Linked DNA regions of Homo sapiens: regions 1 and 3 are each linked to region 2. Evidence: fine-mapped expression QTL. A gene starts in region 2. Each other region holds a variant in brackets. All regions are shown on one strand. Distances are from middle to middle. Region 1 has its middle 280 kb from the start of KIAA1217. Region 2 holds the start of MSRB2 (methionine sulfoxide reductase B2). Region 3 overlaps LOC107984215 (a long non-coding RNA gene).

Evidence for each region. PIP is the estimated chance that this variant, and not a neighbour inherited with it, causes the effect.
Region 1: its variant is fine-mapped to the expression of MSRB2 in whole blood (TOPMed, PIP above 0.99).
Region 3: its variant is fine-mapped to the expression of MSRB2 in whole blood (TOPMed, PIP above 0.99). The same link has a PIP of 0.9 or more in blood mononuclear cells, monocytes and neutrophils.

The regions. Positions count from the first base shown.
Region 1 is chr10:23,925,291-23,933,474 of GRCh38, reverse strand. It overlaps a transcript of KIAA1217 not described here. Among named protein-coding and RNA genes, the nearest start is that of KIAA1217, 280 kb to the left of the region's middle. The variant T/C (reference allele first, on the strand shown) is at 3,180.
Region 2 is chr10:23,091,121-23,099,304 of GRCh38, reverse strand. MSRB2 (methionine sulfoxide reductase B2) reads right to left here and starts at 3,726. Exons shown (of 5, transcript NM_012228.4): 1 at 3,579-3,726. The coding sequence starts at 3,696. It overlaps LOC107984215 (a long non-coding RNA gene), which reads left to right and starts at 4,026. Exons shown (of 3, transcript XR_001747394.2): 1 at 4,026-4,485. RefSeq lists a silencer at 3,449-3,918.
Region 3 is chr10:23,067,803-23,075,986 of GRCh38, reverse strand. It overlaps LOC107984215 (a long non-coding RNA gene), which reads left to right. Exons shown (of 3, transcript XR_001747394.2): 2 at 6,419-6,512. Among named protein-coding and RNA genes, the nearest start is that of MSRB2, 24 kb to the left of the region's middle. RefSeq lists enhancers at 5,178-5,287, 7,533-7,827. The variant G/A (reference allele first, on the strand shown) is at 3,802.

The DNA of each region.
Region 1 (8,184 bases), 830 kb before region 2:
GTGATCATTAAAAGTAAGTGCAATGATTTTACAATAGAAGAAATAAAGGCTTGGAGAGGTAGGAGCCCTGCTCTAGGAGCAGTGACTGGTCACCTAGCCAGGAGCACGTCCTGGGTCTCTGGAACCCTAGTCCAAAGCAGTACAGTCATCTCAGAAACTAACGCACCCTTCCGGTAAAGATGGCATTGTCCTCTGAAGTTTTTCAAAAAATATTATTTGGTCTGAAACTCTATTCATTTCTCTCTTCAACTCTCCCTGCAGAATGTGATTACACAGCTTGCAGGGAAGACGTAAAGCTGGGATGCAAGCGAGCAGACCCTAGCTCCACAACGCCTAGCAGATAATAAGCTGATTTTATTATATGAGAAGTAAAACTGCCAAAATAATAGCAATCAGCAGCAATGTTGTGATGCTAAGGCAAAGCCTCTACAGCTTTTGTGCTATTATAAACTGCCCATAGTTCTAGCTAATCAACCAATCGTTCATACCAGGTTCTTATGGTATTCAATTTACCTGTCATAGCAACAACCTAAAAACAAGGGTGGTCCTTACATATGGTTCCAATTTCATATTTATCAATTCTTCTAAGCACCTTTATTCTTATTTATTTTTGCTTCATTATTATCCCAAGTAGGAATTTAAGGCCAGGATGCTCTAAAGAAACTCACACAGTTGTGCAACCAGGTCTTTTATATCTGCCAACTAGAAAGTAATGATTAATATAATCTATTTGGCTACTTTGAAAAGAGATAACATCTCAGGACTTCAGAACTCATGTTTTTTAATGTAAAAACAAATAGTAAATGTCAGTGGTATGGGGTAAGATGATGCTAAAATATTACTATCTAAAAATCATAAAGAAAATGCTCCATGAGAATAGGGTTTAACAGCCTCTGGGAAAGTTTATATGTTAAATTTTTACCAGTTATTCAACACTCCCACACACACATTTCTTCAAAGTTGTGTATTAGGCCCAGAGTTGAGGATACATTATATTGCTCAAGTGGCTTTTAACAGTGAATGTTTTCACAAATCTCTAAAGTTGCACTTTTTTTTTTTTAAGACTAGAAGATTCTGGTTCAATTTGTACATTTTGCTGGGCACATATGGGACCATCAACAAATAGTTGATGAATGAATGAAAATTGTATTAAATAAGCGAGAGCTAAGCTATTTTCATCAATTACATTTTTGGACCCTGCAGGCGACAGTCCTGACTTTTCTCACAAGCTGTGATGAATATCAACCCCTTTCTCCACCAAATGCCTTCTTTGCCCTTCTCCATGTCACCTTTGTCCCAGGAGGTCAACTTCAGGACTGCACCAAGGACTCACTTGCCCCTCAGCTTCTGGTTACCTTCAGCCAAGAGGAGGCACCAGCAGAGATGGAAGTTGGAGGAGGGAGAAGCCCAGGTGTGCATTCTTCTGCTCTCTCCCTGCCCTCCCTGCCGGGCTGCTCTGGTTGTTTCATTTACCAACTGCCACAGCTCTTGCCAGCTGGTCTTTTCTGGAGTCTGGTAACTGGCCCCATTTTTTGTCCCTTTAGACAGGGGGGTAGTGACAGCTCTTGTATCCTCCAGCCCTGGAGGACTGCATTATCCTTTACTGTCCAAGCCTTTGCAAACAATCCCTTTAGTAAATGCTCCTTAATTTCCCAGCTTGAGTAAACCATCTGTTTCCTGCCAGGACTCTTACTGATACACAAAAGTTTTAAGAAACTGCATATCTGCCATATATTAAAGTAAAATACGAGAAGATGAAACTAACCCCACCCATGAGAAAGGAAAGTGGGGCTCGTTTGTGATAGGTAACCAGACACTTTTGGGTCAATCTGATGAGGTTTCCTATAGCTGACCAGGGATAATCCATCCCCCTATCATGACCATGTGGACATTTGTGTCAGGCATTGGGAGGGTGCAGGAAGATTATTAGACATAATTCCTATTTCAAGGAGTTTCCAGTCTAGTTGGTGGATAAAGCTCACACTATGATCAGTGCAAGACAGGGTGTAGGTAAATGTTAGATGGGATGGCCTTGACACAGTGACTCTTCTTTCTCCAGGTCAATTTAGGTACAGGGGTGAAGGGCAAGGGCATAGGTGAGTGGAGGACACACCAAAGTCCCCAGATTCTAGATTCAAATTTTGGCTTTGCTGTTTCCTGGTTATGCGATCAAGGACAAGTCACTCTTTCCCTCTGGGGCTCAGTTTGTTTATCCATGAAATGGACAAGCTAATGCTGATACCTATCACTCAGAATTATTGTAGGAATTATACAAGAACATCCATGTAATGAATTTAACATAATGTTTGACCCCTAGGAAGAACCCAATAAATGCTAGTTGTTGTTATAAGTAAGACATGGTAGAAGCAGGCGGGGTGAGTTAGCTTGCAGCCTAGAAGTAGGAACTATAGAAAATTATAGAAAAGTATTTAATAGAATATTCTGTTGCTACATTCAATATGATGATAGTTCCACCAGACTTAAGATATGCATGTATTCTTTAATTGCAAAAAAGACAATGAACTAGAACTCCTGTATAATTGGGTGTATCTTCAGGAGACCAAGGGGAGGCACACGTGAGGAAGGACAGGCTCAATACCAAAGGGCCATCTAAGAAGGTGAAACATACAACAAGGTCACATGATTGTTAAGGGCAGGAAATCCAGGCCTCACCCTCAGGAGTCCATGTTCCCACTGAGTTAACTTATGTAAATCAGAGCTCGAGTGCAATGAAGGAAAAGAGAATGTCCTCCAATGTCTTTTTCCTGATGAATCACAGATACACTGGAAAAGTCTATTTCACTGACTCTGATTTCTGTGCAAATTGTAAATAACTCACTTCTCATATTGCCCTTTCCAAGCAAGATGCAGAAATTGTAATTTCTGAAAGGCCCTGCCAATTATCTTGCTAGTATATCTGTGTGCATCTTGACTGTAAGATGCAAACCAGTTTTAGAAACATTCGAATGTGAAAAAATGTCTGCTGCCGAGTTGAGAGCAAATAATACAGGATGTAGAACAAATGTGGACATAGCTCTTTGGAAGCACCACCACCCTTCATGAGGACTTTCGACAATTTTTTAGCTTGCATATTTAGATAATAACTATATAAGATGACATAGAAACAGATGTTATAGAAGGTTGACATTTTTCTGTATATATATTTAAAGATCCTGGGG[T/C]TGATTTTTTAAATCCCTTATTTCAGAAACATAAATAAATCAATAAGAAAAGCACCAAATAACCCCATTTAAAAGTGGGTGAAGGATATGAACAAACACTTCTCAAAAGAAGACAAACTAGTGACCGAGAAAGATATGAAAAAAATGCTCAACATCAGTCATCATCAGAACAATGCAAATTAAAACCACAATGAGATATCATCTCACACCAGTCAGAATGGCTATTAGCAAAAAAGTCAAAAAATAACAGATGCCAGCAAAGTTGTAGAAAAAGGAGAATGCTTATACACTATTAGTGGGATTATAAATTAGTTCAGCCCCTGTGGAAATCAGCTCAGAGATTTCCCAAAAAAAGAGGAATGCTTATACACTATCAGTGGGAATATAAATTAGTTCAGCCGTTGTGGAAATCAGCTCCGAGATTTCCCAAAGAACTTAAAACAGAACTACCATCTGACCCAGCAACCCCATCACTGGGTATATATCCAAAGGAAAATAAATTATTCCACCAAAAAGACACCTACATTCATACGTTTATTGCAGCACTACTGACAATAGCAAAGAGATGTAAGCAACTTAGGTGCCCATCCACTGTGGATTGAATAAAGAAAATATACCTCATGGATACTACGCAGCCACAAAAAAAAGAATGAAATCACGTCCTTTGCAGCAACATGGACGCAGCTGGAGGCCATTATCTTAAGCAAATTAACACAGGAACAGAAAACCAAATACTACATGTTCTCACTTACAAGTGGGAGCTGAACACTGGGTACACGTGGACTTAAAGATGGGAAAATAAACACTGGGGACTCCAAAAGTGAGGAAGGAGGGAAGTGAGCAAGTATTGAAAAACTACCTATTGGGTACTATGCTCACTATTGGGTTCAGCAGAAGCCCAAACCTCAGCATCACACAATATCTCCATGCAGCAAACCTGCACATGTGCCCCCTTAGTCTAAAATAAAAAAAAATAAAAAATAAAATAAAATCCATTATTTCAGTGAGTTCATATTTTTTTCTTTCTAACTGATGCAGACTTTGTGGTGGTTAGCCATGAAGAATTGCATGAATAATTGACAATAAATGAGAGATTTTGTGTTTTACAATTTACTTCATTTTATTTCTTAGCATAGCAATATTAAAATAATAATAATAAACATTCCATCTCCTTTTCTTGGCTTACAAGGCCCTACCTGATTTGGCCTCTGCATAACCACCTCATCTTGTACCTCTTCTTTCTGCCTTGCCTGGCACACTGATCTTCTTTCTGGTCCTCTATCATGCCAAGCTTGTGTACGCTGGAACCTCTGCCCTTACAGTTCGTTGTCTAGACCTTTGCATAGTTGACTTGTCATTCAGACCTCAACTTATAGGTCATCTCCTCAGACAGAGGGGCCTTCTGAGACCTCTCCAGGTAAGATGGCCACAGAGTGGCTATCACCTTGCCCTTTTTAAATTTTCAATGTGGAAGTGAACAAAACAAAATCTGGAACCATATTGCCTGTGTTCAAGGTCTTTACTACTTATGTGAACCCTTGAGCTATAAGTGTCTCAGTTTCCTTGTCTGTAAAATGCGGATAATAATGGTATCTACCTCATGAGGTTGTTGGGGGCATGACACGTAGTAAGCACTATGTAATTGTATGAGTGTAATTCCTTGCTCATTGACCGTTTTCCATCTTCAAAGACTTTAAGTTACAGGAGAACAAGGATCCTGTCATGCCCTGTTCAGTACTCCATCCCCAGGCCCTAGAGTAATGTCTTGCAAACAGTAGGTGCTCAATAACTACTTATTAAATGAATGACCATATACATTTATATAAACAAATAAATGAACAAATCATCATTTGCTAATTGCATGATGAACAATTCATCAAGCAATTAGCAAAGAGAAAGATCTATCATGCCACGGAAAACTAAAATTCACCGCAAATTCTGGGAAGCTGCTTTCTCAGGTAACTGTTTGAAAAGCAATATTTTCCACTAGAATATGTGATTTGCTTTCAAAGAAAGAGCTAGAAACAACGTTTCCTCCCCCAGTCCATCTGGACCGTGGCCCTACCAAGCCTAAACTGCTCTCAGGGGACCCTGTGCTGCTCGAAGGAGCTGCCAGATGTGGCTTCCTTGTGAAATACACAAGCACAATGTCTCAAAGAGGGACTGAAATGCTTGATGATTAGGCAAAAGCCAGCCAAGCCTACAGAGGTAGACAGCTTAGCCATTGTTTCTTTTAAGCTATGCTTTTTAACAGATATCAAGTACCCTGCCAGCAGCCCATGATGCTGGTCTGCTGGGTGGACGAGTTACTGCATCTGGCCTAAAGTTTAACAGCACAAGTCCTTCAGTGATTGAATTAGGCAAGCTTATGATTACCATTTTTTCCATTTAATTAGCTGTTTTATATGTGTATTTCCTCCCAAGTCTTATGTTCAATGTGACATTTGGTTTATCGCGCACTAGTTTCAGAAGTAAGCCTGAAAAAGAATCTTACTGTCTCCGGAGGCCTGAATAGCACATCTGTTTATATGGGAATCTGCTGCAGAACCCCCAACACGGAAACCAGGTGACATTCAGGGAGCTCAAAGCAAGAAAACATTCAGAAGCATTTATTCTGGGAAAGGACAGAGGGTTTATAAATCTCATCCTGAAAATATATAACCAAAAGCCTAGTGCATCACCATTTTGTCTTCCTTAAGATTCTACTTTCATGAGCTCACATAATCACTTTCAATCACATATGAGCATCTCACAGCATGTCATCCTTCTCTCACAGGAAAATAAAATTTGATTTTGATCCTTCAAAATCTACCTCTGATTTACTACTAGTTTTGTGTGGCACTAATTCTCATAATATTTTCACGTTACACTTTAAATAGAATAATGATCAGTGGTAATGCAAGAGGAGAACCTCAATGTATAGAAAACATTTGGCCACACACACACACACACACACACACACACACACACCCTATGACTTGCTAGGGTGAGCCTTGTGAGAGAAAATGGAACTACTGCTGGAACAGAAATAACTTATAGTAAAAATTTTCAGGCAGTTAAAATAAATAAGATAGACCAGGCACTTTGGGATCCCAGCATAGCAATTTATAAATAGGATCCCAGCACTTTGGGAGGCTGAGGTGGGAGGATCACTTGAGATCAGAAGTTCAAGATCAGCCTGGACAACATCAGAAAATCTGTCTCTACAAAAAATACAAAAATTAGCCAGGCATGGTGGTACATGCCTGTGGATCCAGGTACTCGGGAGGCTGAGGTGGGAGGATTGCTTGAACCTGGGAAGTCGAGGCTGCAGTGAGCCCAGATCACGTGACTGCACTCCAGGCTGGGCAACAAAGTGAAACCCTGTCTCAAAAAAAGAATAAATAAATAAACAGATAAATAAATAGGATAGACTGCTGTCTCAAATAACTTTCTCTAAACACAGAGGAAGAGAGATAAAGATTGAAGGATCGAAAAGAGGGAGGAAGAAAAGAGGGAGGAAGGGAGGCAAGCAGGTAACAATTTTCCAGGCACTTTATTTATTTATTTATTTATTTATTTATTTATTTTTGAGACAGAATCTTGCTCTGTCACCCAGGCTGGAGTGCAATGGCATGATCTCAGCTCACTGCAACCTCCGCCTCCCGGGTTCAAGCAATTCTCCTGCCTCAGCCTCCTGAGTAGCTGGGATTACAGGCGCCTGCCACCACGCCCAGCTAATTTATGTATTTTTAGTAGAGACGGGGCTTCACCATGTTGGTCAGGCTGGTCTTGAACTCCTGACCTCAGGTGATCCACTCACGTCGCCCTCCCAAAGTGTTGGGATTACAGGCGTGAGCCACTGCTCCGGGCCTACCTTTGAAACAGGACTAATGCACATCTCATATGGAAATATTGACAGCATTCTCTATCATTCTTAGCATGGTCATCATTTTCATATGAGATGTGTATTAATCCTGTTTCAAAGACAAGAAACTCAAGTATTAGACTTTTCTTGACTTCTGTTGCCTCCTTTTGTATGCAGAGAAATTAAGTGGCTACACTTCTGCCCCTGTATTTTATTTTTTCCCAGCCCCCTCCACCCATCCCGGCCCTGGGTGGGAGAACTGACTGAATCTAATTAAGGAACAGGGAGGAGATACTGAGCCTGTGTAGATTCCCCTTCTTCCTTCTTTTTCCTGAGGACCAATGCACCTGAGCTGATTTTCACAGCTGCTTTGCCAGGTGCAGTCTCTGCCTCAGTATGGGGAGGTCTGCCTGGATCGAGGACCACAGTGATGGGGTGTGGGTAAGTATGCGCATTTTGAAATCCAGTATGAGAAAGTTTATTGGCCTTCATATATAAGCCAGATTCCCTTTGACTCAGAATACAGGTGCTGTTTTGACACCCATTTGCTTTACTACTTTGCATCAATTCTCAGCTGATCAAAACTCCTGCAGAAAAGAGGAGTATTATTTTATTGGGCCTCTTTGGATCCCAGACCCTAAGCTTGTAGGAATTCATTTACTTGCTTAAGGCCACAGAGCTGGAAAGAGACAGGGACCAGAAATGAATCCAGTCTGTCTACAGTCACTTAGGGCGTGTTCCACTTCTTCCCTCCATGATCACAGAAGGGCAGCACCTCATTCTGAGATGGCAAGTCCTGAAGGATGATTAAAGGCTCAGGGAAAACTGATGCCTCTGCCTTCGAAACATGGAACACAGCATAAAAGTGAACTTTGTTAAGCTGCAATTCACTCAGAAAAGTCTTTCAAAAGCTTGGAAATGTATTAAACGAGTTGGAAAAGTCCAGCGACAGTCAAAAGAGACTGATCCTTGCAGAATGCAGAGAGGAGGTGGGTTGAGGGCAGAAGGCAGGACTTAGTATGTATCGGCCCTTAATATATCTATAATTTCTTTCATGTCTCTCCACTAGAATGAAGCTCCGGGAGTTTTATTTCCTGATGCCTCTCTAGTGCCTAACCCAGGGCCTGGCACTGGCTTAGTAAATATTTGTTGATCAGG
Region 2 (8,184 bases):
ACAGACTTTGCTTTGATAGCAAAATGATGAACGCTCAGTTGGGTACACCCAGGTCAGGTTATATGTGGGCTGTATCACTTTAAGAGGTTTCTTTGACCTGGATGTTATGAGCTGAATTGTGACACTCCCTGCCCGCCAACTTCCAAATTCATATGTTGAAGTCCTAATCCCCAGTACTTTAAAATGTGACTGCATTTAGAGACAGGGCCTTTAAAGAGGCAATCATGTCAAAATGAGGCCATTAAGAGGGGGCCCTGGTCCAATAAGACTGGTGTCCTCATAAGAGGAAGGGACAGCAGAGAAAAGGCCGCCTGGGGACACAGCAAGAAGGCAGCTATCCCCAAGTTAAGGAAAGAGGTCTCAGGACAAATCTCAGGACAAGTCTTGGCCTTGGACTTCCAGCCTCCAGAACCGTATGAAAATGAATTCCATCGTTTAAGCTGCCCAGCCTGTGATATTTTGTTATGGGATCCCTAGCAAATGAACACACTGGGGCTTTAGAAAACAACCAAAGTTTAAATAAAAATTACAGTATGAGTAAATTCTGAGCAGTTTTATCAAACAGCAATTTAGGCACGTGTAAATTAGATACACGACAAGGTCTCTCACTTGGGAATGAGTCAAGTCTTCTGGCTACCGTGGCTAGAGAGAGGTTTCAACACTGGCTGTGTCCTTTTCTGTGTGTGTGCAGGTATTTTCTGTCCTCTGCACCACGTGCTCATCCTTTGGGGGCTACACATTTTCCAGATTCCCTCTACATTCTCTTGCTATCTTCACTATGAAAACATTTATCGGTTGCTGCTATTGCATGAGATAACTACACAGCTTTACTTTGAATTATGCCTTAATAAACTCAAATTCCTTGGAGTTCCCTTCTCTCTGTGTGCTGTGATTTGCACAGGCCATATATTTTGTTGGTCAGAAGTTCTACGGGGTGGGCCTCGATTTTTTCATCCCTAAGGAAATCCACTCTTGGTCCTATGGTCACCTACTGGGTGCCTCCTTCGGGTTTTGCTAACCTTCCTGGCCACAGTTGCTATACTGCCAATTGTCACACATAAGCCCACTCCATTTTGATAAATAATGTGTTGAATCTAATGGAACTCTTTAGAAACTGGTATTAAAAGAATCCCCAGCCCATTCTGATCTGCAGAACTAGTCTCTCCCACCAGTGCCTGGACTATTTTAACCCTATGCCCAGGACAGTTTCCTAGCATAGTCATCTCTAGAAAGAATATTTTCCTGAAGCAACAGATTTTTTGCTCCAGAATATTTCTTACTTTCCTTTTTCAGTTTGCTCTTTGTCAATCTGGATTAAAAAAAATCACTCTAAGCATATGAGAAATTGCAGCACTGGAAAAAAATACTGTCATTTCAATATCTTCTCATTTCCCCCCTCCCAATGTCTCCCTCTCTCTCAACACTCCCGAAGCCCATGATGTAAGTTAAATGTAGCTACATTTTTGTCCTTTCCACTTATTTATGTAATCATAACTAACATTTATTGTGTGCCTAAGTGTCAAGCATTGTAACAAAATATTTAATTAAAAAGTTATTCTTTACAACAACCCTACCATTATCATTATCCTTATTTGACAGAAGGAAAAAAAATCTGAAGTTTAAACTTTCCAAATTCAAGAAACATGTCCAAAGACATTGTTACAAACTGAATATTATATGTTCTCCCTGCTCCTCTCCCCACTCCCATATGCTAAAGCCCTAACTCCCAATGAGATGGAATGTGGAGGTGGGGCTTGGGAGGTTATTAGTTTTAGATTAGATCATAAAGGTGAGGCTCTCTTGAGGGATTAGTGGTCCTTCCTGAGACAGTCACCTGAAGGCAGAGTGAGAAGGCAGTCAACTGCAAGCCAGGAAGCAGGTCTGCATCAGGAACCAAATCTGTTCCCACCTTGATCTTGGACTTCCCAGCCTCCAGAACTGTGAGAAAATGTTGTTGAAGCCACCCAGTCCACGGTGTTTTGCAATAGCAGCCTGAGCTCAGACACAGAGCCAGGAAGTAACCGAGAGCCAAGACTCAAAATCTGCATCTATTCATACCCAAGCCCTTCACCACAGAAATACTCCGTTTATCATTTTTAATGGCTGCCTAACAGTTTGTTGGATTGAATTTTCATGATTTACGTAAGTATTTCTTAACTGATTTGGGTTACAGCCAGTTTCCATTTTGTAAGAGACTAGTGCTTAAAGCATCTTTGCATATATCTCTTTGTTCTTCTTTTGAACTATTTCCTTCGAATAGATTCCCAGGAGGGGTGTCTGATAAGGTACACAGCTCCTGTTACCTACTGGTGGCTGGCCAAATTTTATTGTTGCTGGAGAACTTCAGATCCCAGGGCAATTCATTAGGCTGCTTCTGACAGCAGCAATTACAGCCATGAAGTAGTTACCGCTAAAACCACCATCCTTTTTCAAGGGGTTATAGAGAGCTCGTCGGTAACTGTGACCTGTTTCTATCACCTGTGGTTCTCAGCAATACAATGCTTGGCACACAGTAGGCTCACAGCAAATGTCATCAGACTGACTAGAGACACCAGTGATTAGAAAGGCCATAGCTGGAAGTCAAGTTGGATGAGCTAACATTCCACAACGCCAACGCTTTTATTTAGTTACGTATTCTTTCAATATTGCATTTCGAAAACTTCAGGGGCTAAAAAGAGCTCAGAATGAGTTGGTACATTTTCATCAGTTGGGTATCTCTGAATGTCTTCAATGAACACATATAAAATTGGATTCAGAGTGGGTCAGTCTGGCAACCGCCCAGGAAGCCAATCCCCTGGGGCACTAAGTTACCCTGAAATAGAACTGAAATACAGGGGTAGCTGGCACAGGTCTCCCGAGGTGACTCCTTCCTGCTTGGTGAAATGTGCAGGTACCCAGATCCAAGAGAGGATCCAAAAGTATTTAGCAGAAACACACACACACACACACACAGAGAGAGAGAGAGACACACACACACAGGCTCGCCCTGGTCTCTGTCTCAGTCATTAACAATGGCTGTCACCTTAAAGAAGGAACAAATGATCAACCCAGTCTCCCTGGCTCTTAGACACATTTATGGGAAGTCAGCAGGGCAGGAAACACTCACAGGAACCCCAAGTCTGAACTGCCTGCTTCTCAGATGCTGGAAGGAAGCCCGCGGAACTACGAAGAGGGCTGCAATGCAAAATACTAGGGGCCTTCGCAGGGGCGCGCGGGCCGGGCTGCTACAGCCCAGGCCCCGGGCCTTCGCCTGGAGTCCCCGATAGGGGTCAGAGGCCCCCGAGCCCCACTTATGCCCCCACTCCCCGAGCCAAGAAAAAAAAAATTATGCGCACATTTAGGGGGATCATTTGTTCATTTCCTCGGATTCTCACAGGGGTCAGTCCCCACCCTGCCGCCACCAAGTTTACAATCCACTGTCCCAGATCCTCGGGCTGGGGGGGGGGAGGGGCGCGCCGAGGAGGGCTTAGTAGGAGGGCAGCGCCCGGCCTGGACCGGCCCTAGGCTCCCGGGTGCAGCCGGTGAAATGAAGCCGAAAGCCGTAGGCGGCGGCGGGGCCTGCGGGACCCGCGTCCTACCTGCCTCCCCCAGTCCCGGCCCGGTGCCGGGCCCGCCGCCGCCCGCTTGGCCCCGCACCGCCCGCCGAGGCGCAGTTCCGAGGGTCAGGCCCCGGAGCAACCAGAGGAGCCGCGCCATGACGCCCGCTCCGGCGCCGCTCCGCCCTCTGCCCTCTGCCCGTCTCTGCCCCTGCTCCCATCCCACCCCTCCCCCATTCTCTCCCGTCCGCCTGCGCTAGTCGGCCTCCCTCCCCACGCTCCGCCCACACCGCCAGTCCCCTCGTCTCCCTCCCCCTCTTCTCCCTCCCCTGCCCCTCCCTCCTTCCCTCCTTCCCACCTGCTCCTCCCACTATGTGCCCTGGGCCCTCCCAGGTCCCCGCCCCTCTTTCCTCCCACTCTGCCTCTCTCTCCCCCTCCCTCTTCCTCTCCTTTTCCCCTTGCCTTTCCTCCCCCTTCCTCTCCCCCTTCCTCTCTCCCTTCCCTTCCATGAGACCCTCCCCAACCCATCTCTGCATCTCCCAGCTCCTCCCACTCCTGCTCCTCCCTCGCCCTGCCCCCCTCCACCTATCCCAACTCCACTCATCCGCAGCCCAAACACTGATCTGTTTTAGTTTGCATTTTCTAGAGTCGTCCATAAATGGAATCATCCCATATGTACTTGATTTTGTCTGGCTTCTTTCACTCAACATAGTTACTTTGACATGCCTGCGTGTTTTTGCATGGAACAATCATTCATTGCTTCCTGAGCAGTATTCCATTTATGGATATACCACCGTGTGTTTAGTCAGCACTTGATTTAGCCTGCTTTCAATTTTTCCTGATTAGAACTACAGCTGCTAGGAACATCCCTGTGCAAATCTTTGTACAGACATATACGGTTTTTCCTCTCTGGGGTAAATACCTGGAAGTGGAATGCCCAGGTCGTAAGGTAGGTGTAACCATTTAAGAAACTACTATACTGTTTTCCCAAGTGGTTTTTTTCTTTACCTTCCCACTAGCAGTCTATGCGAGTTCCAGTTGTTCTTCATCCTTGCCAACACTTGAAAGTCCAGAGATTTTAACTGTAGATGTTCCGGTTCTGTGTAGTGGTAGCTCATTGTGGCTTTATTATGCATTCTCTAATCGTTAATGATGTTAAGCATCTTTTCATGTGCGTATTTGCAGCGAGTGTATTTTCCTTGGTGAAGTGTCCGTTCAGATCTTTTGCCCATTTAATGTTGAGTTGTTTCATTATTGAGCTTAGAACACTTTATATATTTTGGATGCAAATCTTTTATCAAACATATGCTTTACAAAGATTTTTTTTCCCAGTCTCTTGTTTGTCTTTTCTGTCTCCTAATATTGTCTTGGGAAGAGCAGTTTTTAATTTTGATGAAGCCCAATTTATCAATTTGTTAATGGATTGTTCTTTTTTTGGTATCATATTTAAGAAATCTTTGCCTAATCCAAGATCACAAAGATTCTCTCCTATGTTTTGTTCTAAAATTTTTATAGTTCTAGGTTTTACATTTAGGTCTCTGACCGATTTAGAATTTTTATATATGGCCAAAATTTTTGTTTTGTTTTGTTTATCTGTTTTGTTTTTTGCATATCTATATCCAGTTGTTCCAGCACCATTTTTATTGATTGATTGATTGATTGATTGAGACAGAGTCTCTGTCGGCCAGGCTGGAGTGCAGTGGCACGATCTTGGCTCACTGCAACTTCCATCTTCCAGGCTCAAGCAATTCTTCTGCCTCAGCCTCCTGAGTAGCTGGGATTACAGGCGTGTGCCACCACGTCTGGCTAATTTTTGTATTTTTAGTAGAGACGGGGTTTCACCATGTTGGCCAGTCTGGTCTTGAACTCCTGATCTCAGGTAATCTGCCTGCCTCGGCCTCCCAAAGTGCTGGGATTACAGGCGTGAGCCACCAGGCCTGGCTCCTAGCACCAATTTTTAAAAGACTACTCTTTCTCCACTGAACTGTTTTTGAATCTGTCAAAAATCAGTTTCCTATCAATGTGTTGTGTCTATTTCTGGACTTCCTATTTTGTCCCATTAATTAATTTGTCTATTTTTACATCAATATTACAATATCCTGATGACTGGACTTGCAACCAGCTAGCATTGGTACTGTACCTCTGTTCTTTTTTAAGGTTGTTTGGGCTATTTTAGGTCTTTTGTATTTCAACATAAATTTTAGATTCAGTCTGTCAATTTCTACACATGATCTTACTTAAGTTTTGATTGGGATTGCATTGATTCTATCCATAAGTTTGGGGGAAATTAATATCATAACAATATTGAATCTTTTGACCCATGAATAAAGATATGCCTATCTATTTATTTAGGTCTTCCTTAACACCTACTAGTAGTGTTTTGTAGTTTTCACTGTATAGGTTTTGCACATCTTTTGATAGATTCATCCTAAAGCATTTCATATTTTTGATGCTGTGGTATTGTTTTATCAATTTCAATTTCTGATTGCTAGTATGTAGATTTTGTATATTGATCTTGTATTCTGTAATCTTTCTAAACTCATTTCTTAGTTCTAGTAACATTTTATGGATTTTATCAGATTTTCTACATAGAAAAATCATGTCATCTGTGTAGAAAGAGTTTTACTCTTTCTTTTTAATACAGATGTCTTTGATTTCTTTTTCTTGCCTTATTGCACTGGTTAGAGCCTGCGCAGTGTTGAATAGAAATGTTGAGAGTGAACATCCTTGTCTTGTTCCTGATCTTAGAGGAAAAGTATTCAGCCTTTTACCATTAAGTATGATATTAGCTATAAGTTTTTCATAAATTTTCTATCAGATTAAGGAAATTTCTATTTGTAGTCTACTGAGAGTTTTTATCAGGAAGGGATGTTGGATTTTTGTCAAATGCTTTTCTGCAGCTACTGATATAATCATACCTTTTTCCTATTTTCTTTTTGTAGTTTGTTACTTGATTTTCAAACGTTAAACCAACTTAGTATTTCTTCAATAAAGCCTGCTTTGTCAGTTTTATTATTTGTTTCATGTATTGTTGGATTATGTTCTATGTATCATGGATTACATTTTTTTAGAATTTTTGTGTCTGTGTTGATGAAGGATGTTGGACTGAAAGCTTCCTCTCTTATAGTATCTGTCTGGTTTTGTATCTGAGTAATAAGTAAACAAATTCAAATCCAGAGAGGATAAGTACCTTGTCTATGATCACACTGCTAGTTAGTTGAAGAGTTTGTAAAGTTCCCCTAAAGTTTAGAATTTAGAAAATATCAAGGAATACCGGTTTAACTCACCCACCTTCACCCCCAATCCCAAGCAAAGTTAATAAATTAACTTAACATTGTGACATTGTGGGAAAAAAATCATGGAGTCTGGTGTAAAACACATTCAAGTCAGAATATCTTAAATTTAAAAGACGCATGAGCTTGATCAAGTATTCAACCTGTGACAGATCAGTTTTCTTATCCCCAAAATGGGGTTATTGTAAGGATTAGATACAACATACGTTAAAACACCTAGCAAACCCTTTGGTACATACTTGGTTTTAATAAACGTTAGTTGTTATTGAAGATTTAATGAGGACAACGGTAATTGGTAAACAGAGCTGATAACCAATCTATCCTTGCATTTCTACATATCCTCACACTCCCAGAAAGACATTCTAAGCACAGAGGAAGTCCCTCCCTCCCTACCACCATTCTCCTTTACACCTGCTAGGAGGACCTTTACCTCATCTGTGATCAAGCCCTTACTGGTCTTAAAATGTCCCCTCTTCTCACCACCATTTATCTGAATCCAACTTAACCATCAAGGCCATGCATTAACCTCACATTCTTGGACACATGGTCTTAGCCTGAACAAAACTCTACTTTATGTTTTCCCTTTTACTTTGTACACTGAGTGGTAGAGACTATCATTTGCCTGGCCGATATCCACTCTCTCTACTTACAAACAGATCTTTGATTTTATTAAGAGTAGCAATATGCCTAGCTAAAATGTTACATCTGTCAGCTCCCTTGTAGTTGGTGGCAATCATATGATGCTGTTATGGGCAATGATAGGAGCAGACATCACTGGGAGCTACCAGGAAAACTAGTTAAAGAGGAGCTGGCTCAGCACTGGACTTTTGCTCTGTCTTTTGTTTCTGCTTGGAAATTAGTCATGATGGCTGGAGCACTGGCAATCTTCTGGTATACATGAAGATGAGACCCACATCTTGATTTTAAAGAAGTAGAAGACATGAAGGAGCCCAGGATTCTGAAGACAGTGTGGAGTCAATATGCTAGTCTTGGATTGCCTGCCTTCAGATTTCCAATTACATGAGAGACCAATAAATCTATATTTTGTTTAAATCACTGTTACTGGGATTTTCTGTTTCATGAAGTTGACACAGTGTATATCTGATGTCCTGAATTTGATTGTGAGAATCTTCAGGAAAGGCAAAATTCTATAACTTTGACTCTTTGTATATCCAACACACTTCTCTGCAAACTATAAATTTGATAATAAAATCCCTAAAAGATAGGATAGAATGACCAAAAAATGGGAGATAAGTGCAAAAGCCAATTTGCTTTTCCCTACCAAAAACCATTTGGGAAAGAATGAGGGACTGGAATAAGCTTTACACAATTAATCTGCACTGAAAATACTTTAT
Region 3 (8,184 bases), 23 kb after region 2:
ATGCTTCCTAACTTCCCTCAATCTTCTGATTCATTTTCTAGTCTGAGAAAGTGTCTCCTTTCCAAGTATATAGCAGAAAATGTACGGTCTGTACTGTGGCTTTCGTCATGATAAAGTGAAACCCCACCCTCATGCCTATCCACATCATGGCAAAGCTAGAGAGTAGTCAACCCATGACAGGTTCATGAAATGACAATGTTTTAAAGATGCAGTCATCTTACCATTCATAATTAAGAACTGAACACACAGAGTAATAGGAGTTGATTCTTCCAAGCCTTTGCAAGCATTGTGCTGAATTTTAGACCAGAAGGGGCCTTAGAGGTCATCAGATTCAAACTCTTTATTTGCATTTTAGCCAAATGAGATCCATAGAGGCTGATACTTTACCGAGTTTCACACACCTAAAGGATTAGACACAGATCAATAACTTGTATTTTCTGACCTCTAATGCAGATTCTTTATGCTTCACTATGCAAATGCAAGATTGACCTCTTCTGGTTCCCTTGTGTTTTTTAGAGGCGGAGCTGTTTTTCCAACAACTTTTATGCACTACAGGACCCTGTAGGAGGGCCATAGTGAAATCGAGATGATCAAAACGATCATAGCTATTTTGTCTTGATTATCTCAACACATTCTATTTTTTGTTCTCCGTTTATTATCCTAAAGGCCCATGTTTTGATTAAATGTATTCATTTTTTTGTTATAATGAATGCATACACTTTATTTAAAAGTTTCCATTTTACTGCATGTCTTAACAGCTGAATAAGCAGGCCATTGCAGCCTATGTTGATTACATTTTACCTCCCTTCTCTTTCCTTGCCTAGATCTGTCTGGGTTTTTGGATGATTGACTTACAAATGAAAAAGCAGAACATCACATTCCACTTCTCTGAAAGCCAAGTTCATGTGGATCTAGTAATTATCCACACAGGGTAGCATCTATTTTCATGCTTTTGTTAATAAATAATCTTCACTTGAATAAAAATCATCTACTTCTTGATTAGTTATTATTTATAATTTTATAGAACGTTATACTTTCAAATTATGAATTAAAGAGGCATCATCTGCAAACTCACCATACTGTGACTGCTACCTCGTTTAAGGACTTAACAAGTATTTATTACGTGTTTGTGGAAGGTCATAAAATGAAGGACAAGGTATTATTTCCATCTTCATGCACCTCTAACCAACTCTGGCAGTTAATATGTAGATTCACGTGAATGAAAACACAACTGGGGATAAGCTGGGAAAATCCGGGATAGTTTCCTAAAAGGAGTGAGATTTGAAGGAGGTATGGATAGAGAGAGAATTGGGGAAGCTGGAAGATGCAAGAGTAGCAGTGCAGCTTGTAATCCCAACACTTAGGAGGCTGAGGCAGGAGGACCACTTGAGCCCAGGAGTTCAAGACCAGCCTGGGCAACAAAGTGAGACCTCGTCTCTACAAAAAAATACAAAAATTAACCAGGTGTGCTGGTGCACACCTGTAGTCCTAGCTACTCAGGAGGCTGAGGTAGGAGGATTGCTTGAGCCTGGAAGTTGGAGGCTGCAGTGAGCTATGATTGCTCCACTGCACTCCAGCCTGGGCAACAGAGTGAGACCCTGTCTCAAAAAAATATATAATAAAATAAAAACAAAAACAGAATACCAGAGCAAACAGACAGACATAGAGAAAAGAGCAAGCAGGTTATTTATGAGAACTATGTTAGGTTATAAATAAGAACCAATATCTAACATTCCTTGAATTCCAGGAACTCTACTGATCCCTGTATGTTTTTGATTTTTTTCCTTTTTGTATGTTTGTTTTGTTTTAGACAGGGTCTTGCTCTGTCACCCAGGCTGGAGTACAGTGGTGTGATCTTGGCTCACTGCTGCAGTCTCTATCTCCTGGGCTCAAGTAATCCTCCCACCTCAGCCTCCCAAGTAGCTGGGACTGCAAGCACATACCATCATGCCCAACCAATTTTTGTATTTTTTGTAGAGATGCGGTTTCACAATGTTGCCCGGGCTGGTCTCAAACTCCTGGGCTCAAGTGATCCTCCCACCTTAGCCTCCCAAAGTGCTGGAATTACAGGCATGATACACTGCACTTGGGCTCTGTTATTTAGTTTTTTACAAGACTTGTGTCATTTGCCAAACTATGTTAAGTCAAAAATTTTAACACTCCCCACAACCCAGCGCACACACAGGCCACTAATGGAAAACTTAAGTCAGGCATGCACACTCATTAAGTGCCAGCCAGGAATGCTCTGTCAATCCTAACACAGGAATGCCTGACAAGTCAAGGCAGCTGAAGACTCTCTTTGGTCCATGAGGTGCTATCTTCCTGTGTTGTAAGACAGAACGCAGAAGGAGCTCCCTTTTGCAAGGCTAAGGGATAGTGTGGCTCCCAAACAGTGAAAGAGAATATCACAGCACTCACACCATGATGAACAATAGGCGTCTGGAAGGTCACTTACACCAATGTGTTTCTTTTTCCTCTTCAGAGTAAATTTTTAGGAGCTAATCTTTCTGGGAGCTCCACTAAGAAGGAAATCAGAATCTCATCCTAATTTGAGTCAATATTCTAAGAATTTTGAGGCACAAACATTCATTTTTTCATTTATTTTGAGACATGGTCTCTCTTTGTCACCCCGGCTGGAGTGCAGTGGTGCCATCATAGCACACTGCAGCCTTCAGCTCCTGGGCTTAAGTGATCCTCCCGCCTCAGCCTCCTGAGTAGCTGGGACCACAGATGCATGCCACCATGTCTGGCTTTTTTTTTTTTTTTTTGTAGAAATGGGTATTGCTGTGTTGCCCAGGCTGGTTTTGAACTCCTGGGCTCATGCGATCCTCTGCCTCAGCCTGCCAGATTGCTGGAATTACAGCCATGAGCCACAAAATATCCTTTAGAGAAGGGAAATGATATCCTAGTTCTTTTCCTGAGGACTTTTATTCTATTCCACTTCCTGATCAGGTAAAAAGTGTTCTGGGAAACCCTGCCTTCCTTATTATTTTCTTTAAGTTCTCTCCTTTTCTCCAACATAGAATTTATGGAAATTGGAGTGCCTGCAAGAAGGGAGACTTGCCTCTGATCCCCTGGCCAGAGGCTTAACAAGCCAGACTAAAGAGTGGTGGGAGAATTTTTTAGAATACTTGACATGAATTCTCTGGAGTTTGGGGAATACAAGCACACAGGGCCTGCTGCCAACTTTTGTTCTGGAGCGTTCTGAAAGAGGAAGGTCCAGTGGAGAGTTCACTCTGCATCAGCAAGTATTTTTTTGTTTGTTTTTGTTTTTTGAGATGGAGTTTCGCTTTTGTTGCCCAGGCTGGAGTGCAATGGTACAATCTCGGCTCACTGCAACCTCCACCTCCTGGGTTCAAGTGATTCTCCTGCCTCAGCCTCCCAAGTAGCTGGAATTATAGGTGCCCGCCAACACGCCCAGTTAATTTTTGTACTTTTAGTAGAGACGGGGTTTCGCCATGTTGGCCAGGCTGGTCTTGAACTCCTGGCCTCAAGTTATCCCCTCACCTCAGCCTCCCAAAGTGCTGGGATTACAGGCCTGAGCCACTGTGCCCGACCTTCTTTTCTCAGTTTTGAATTGTTGCATTGAGATATTAATTCCTTACTTTTCATTCCTTGTCTCAGGCATCTCAGAGCTTCGACTGACTGAATATATGCAGAGTCCAAAATGAGATAAACAAGCAGTTGAGTATACTTTTATTTGGCTCCAATGCCCTCAGTGTGGTCACAGCTGTCACCGGAAGGTTATTCATTTTGCAATTTTGTGTTCTTGTTTCTAGTGCTAATCTCTCCAGGGCACCG[G/A]AAGGTTATTCATTTTGCAATTTTGTGTTCTTGTTTCTAGTGCTAATCTCTCCAGGGCATTAAGAAGGCTAGGCCGGGCGCGGTGGCTCACGCCTGTAATCCCAGCACTTTGGGAGGCCGAGGCGGGTGGATCATGAGGTCAGGAGATCGAGACCATCCTGGCTAACAAGGTGAAACCCCGTCTCTACTAAAAATACAAAAAAAAATTAGCCGGGCGCGGTGGCGGGCGCCTGTAGTCCCAGCTACTGGGGAGGCTGAGGCAGGAGAATGGCGTGAACCCGGGAAGCGGAGCTTGCAGTGAGCCGAGATTGCGCCACTGCAGTCCGCAGTCCGGCCTGGGCGACAGAGCGAGACTCCGTCTCAAAAAAAAAAAAAAGAAGGCTAAAATGGGAATTGCGTGGGTTATTAATAAAGAGACTTTGATTCAGAAATTCACAAAACTGCACATCTCTTTCAGTTGTAAGCCAAGGTGATAGTTTACTTTTCAGGACTGAGTAGCATCTGTCCTATTTCTTGCTACACAGACATTGGGAAAGAAAGAGTGAAACTAGCCAGGTGCAGTGGCTCATGCCTGTAATCCCAGCACTTTGGGAGGCTGAGACAGGAGGATCACTTGAGCTCAGGAGTTCGAGACCAGCCTGGGCAACATGGCAAAACCCCATCTCTCCAAAAAATACAAAAATTAGCCAGATGTGGTGGTATACACCTGTAGTCCCAGCTGCTTTGGAGGCTGAGGTGGGGGAATTGCTTGAGCTCATGAGATTGAGGCTGCAGTGAGCTATGATTACACCATTGCACTCCAGCCTGGGCAACAGAGCGAGACCCTGTCTCTATGTAAAAAAAAAAAGAAAAAGACTCAGGCTAGCCTAAGTGGGAGATTTTTTTCAGATTCTAGGCAAGTGGTTCTCAAAGCGTGGCCCCAGACCAGAGAAGCAGGCTCACCTGGAGCTTGTTAACAGTGCAAATTCTGAGGCCTCATCCCAGGCCTAATAGAATGGCTATTTCTGAAAATGGGGCCCAGGAATCATCAGCGTCCAGCTGATTCTGATGCCCGCTGAAGTGTGAGAACTGCTGCTCCGTCAGTCTAGTGTGAGAACAGGTGCCTTGAATTGAATCATGCTATGAGTACAGAGAGCACATTTCAGCTTCCTGTACTGCAGTCTAGCCAGGTTAGCAAATACAGGGTCATAGTTAATAGCTGGGACACTGAGGACCACTTCTCTTTTAAAGTGGCTTGTGGTTTGGGAACACCACTCCTAAGCCTTAGTTAATGGCGTCAGTAATTACTTGACTGCTTACAATTAGATAATGGTGTCAGCAAATTGGGTAGTTAGTAGCCAATCTTCTGAGGAGCCACCTGAACATGGGCACAGCCCATGGCTGAGTACCCAACCATGACAAAGGGCACATCGGAGACAGATAACCAGATACTATAGAACACATTATTTCTTGAACTGCAACAACCTTGTTACTCCAGACAGAAGAATATTAGCACTTGAGTCACCCAATCTCTGTCTCCCCTCTGTTTTTCTGTGTCCTTTAACAGCCTCTGTGACCCCTGTTTTAAGTGCATGTCCACATCTGCATTTTACAATGGTTTCTATAAAATTGTGACAAGAACGTTCCATCGGAATGTGCAATTAAAAGATAAGTGCTGCCATCAGCACTTTTTTTTTTTTTTTTTTTTTTGATGGAGTCTTGTTCTGCCACCCAGGCTGGAGTGCAGTGGTACAGTCTCGGCTCACTGCAACCTCTGCCTCCTGGGTTCAAGCCATTCTCCTGCCTCAGCCTTCCTAGTAGCTGGGATTACAGGCATGCCTCACCACGCCTGGCATTTTTTTGTATTTTTAGTAGGGGCAGGTTTTCGCCACATTGGCCAGGCTGGTTTGGAATTCCTGACCTCAAGTGATCCGCTCGCCTCAGCCTCCCAAAGTGCTAGGATTACAGGCATGAGCCACCGCACCTGGCCCATCAGCACTCTGAATAGATCTTTCTAATCACTTGAACCCAGGAGGCAGAGGTTGCAGTGAGCCGAGATTGTGCCATTGCACTCTAGCCTGGGTGACAGAGCGAGACTCCATCTCAAAAAAAAAGATCTTTCTGGGCCTTAACTCCAGCAATAGCCAGAAGAGTGTGTGTGCACCCAGCCTGACCAGGACAGTCTTCTCCCTTTCTCATGCGTTTCTGTCTTAATGAGATGGGCAATTGCTAAGGAGAACTTCGGTGCCAGAGGATGGCAGCCAAAGCCTACCTGCCCTGGGCTTCTCCCTATACATGGAGACACTGCTACCACCTAACCCACTACTACCCTGCCCCAACCATGGCCAGTTCTTCCTCTTGGACACATGTGGGAACTGTTGTTCCTTTTTGGGAAATGCCATCATTCTTCTTTGTTTCACTGTTGTCACTATGAGACCCAGGGACCTGAAAACAAATCAATTAGAACAAGATAGGAATTAGCATGTATCAAATAAGACTGAGGAGTAATTACTGCGTGGGTGAACCTGTGCAAAAACAGTCACGCTGGTCGCATATTTATGTCCTGCCATTTGCTAGAAACTTTCAAGCGTCTACTACTGTTACTTTAAAAATGTCTACATGGAAATTCTATCCCCAGCCTAACCTGAACTTAAGCCGGCAGATGAGGATAAGGCTCCCCAGCCTCCCGGAACAAGCAGACAGTTATTAATGGAAATGTTCCACCAGTTCAGGTATGTGCTAACATCTGTTAAAATTGCATTTGTACAGGATTGCATGAATTACTGATACATGAACACATTGCTTTAGCCAAACACAAGCTTTTATGATTTCATGATGAGGCTTCCCAGAGTTCTAGGTTATGACAACCTGACTTTCAAAGTTACACGTTAAAGCAATCTGTTTGCATCCCAGGCTGACTGTGCAGAAGAGATTTGCGGTTGGGACAATCTGCCATTTAAAGAGAATGAGGTCTCTAGTCATTAAGGGAGACAGAATCTGTGGCTGGGACTTTTTCTGGGGCATCCTGAGTAGGTAGCTGTGTGGCCTGTCACAGTGCGGTTTTTCAGAGGAATGTGTGTCATGCGTAGAATAGAGAAATTTATTCCTGAGCATTTTAATTTTTTTTAGAGACAAGTTCTTGCTCTGTCACCCAGACTGGGACACAGTGGTGCAATCATGGCTCACTGCAGCCTCAAACTCCTGGGCTCAAGTGATCCTTCCACCTCAGACTCCTGAGTAGCTGAGACTACAGGTATGCACCAGCATGCCTGGCTAATTTTCTTTCTTTCTTTATTTTTTTTTTTGTAGAAATGGGATCTGACTATGTTGCCCAGGCTGCTCTTGAACTCCTGGGCTCAAGCAATCCTCTGGCCTCAGCCTACCACAGCTTTTGGATTACAGGCATGAGCCACCTGGCCTCTTGAGTGTCCTTAAATAAAAATCAGCAGGTGCAAGTGCCAGGGCCTTGTCAAGCCTCCACTATTGCTGGATCGACATCTCTTCTGCCCATGGCTTTTCCCAGGATCATCTCTGCATTGCTATAGACTCCGCCATCTGTCTCACCCTGCTTTTGAGTTGGTGCATCTTACTGGGGGCTCTAGACAAATTAAGCATTGTTGTGAAGTGCACTGGCTCCGTGCTGAACTTGCTTTTTATTCCACCTACCTTCTTATAAAAAATGTTTTGGAAAGTAAGGGATCAGAGAAGGTTTCTACAGTTTTGGTGCATTATTAGGCCAGGTCCTTGTTTCAGTCTCCACTTAGCCTAACTAAAGACACCTTCCGCTCTGTAAAAAAGGTTATCGTTATGGATCCTGTGGGAATTGGTGGCATGAAGGGACCACTAGGGGGCGCCCAACGCCTCAGAATAGTCCACCTTTAAGTCTCTAGGCCTGGTCCTGGAGGCTCTTGACTCCAGGCTTCCCTAAGGTTCCTGGAAGGCCTTCATGTGTTATTACTGGTTGGACAGAGAAGAGCACTGCCAGCCCCAGATGGGAGTGAGAAGGCCGGTCGGGGAGAAGGTAAGCAATTGAGAAGGCGGAAGGGGCAAAAGGAAACTGGAGAGGGCGGCAGGAAGAGAGAAAAGGAAGAGAGCAGAGGCGTGGAGAAGAGGAAAAGAGGAGGGCGGGGAAAGGGGAGGCTGCGTTTTGCAGGACTGGGCAGCTCCAGAGACAGTGGAACACCGGTGTCTTTTTGGACCCTATGGTACATAGGGGGACAGGGAAGGAGCCCGGTTTGGGCTTAACTGGGGGATGCTGGGAGTCTCTCTGGTCCAGGAGGTCTTAGGCATCTGTGTGCCTGAGGCTATCTGGGTCTCCCCAGTGTCTCCCCACACACCTGTGCCAACTTGCCCACTTCATACTTTTCCTGTTGCCTTCGATTCACAACTCGCCTTGCTCACGTC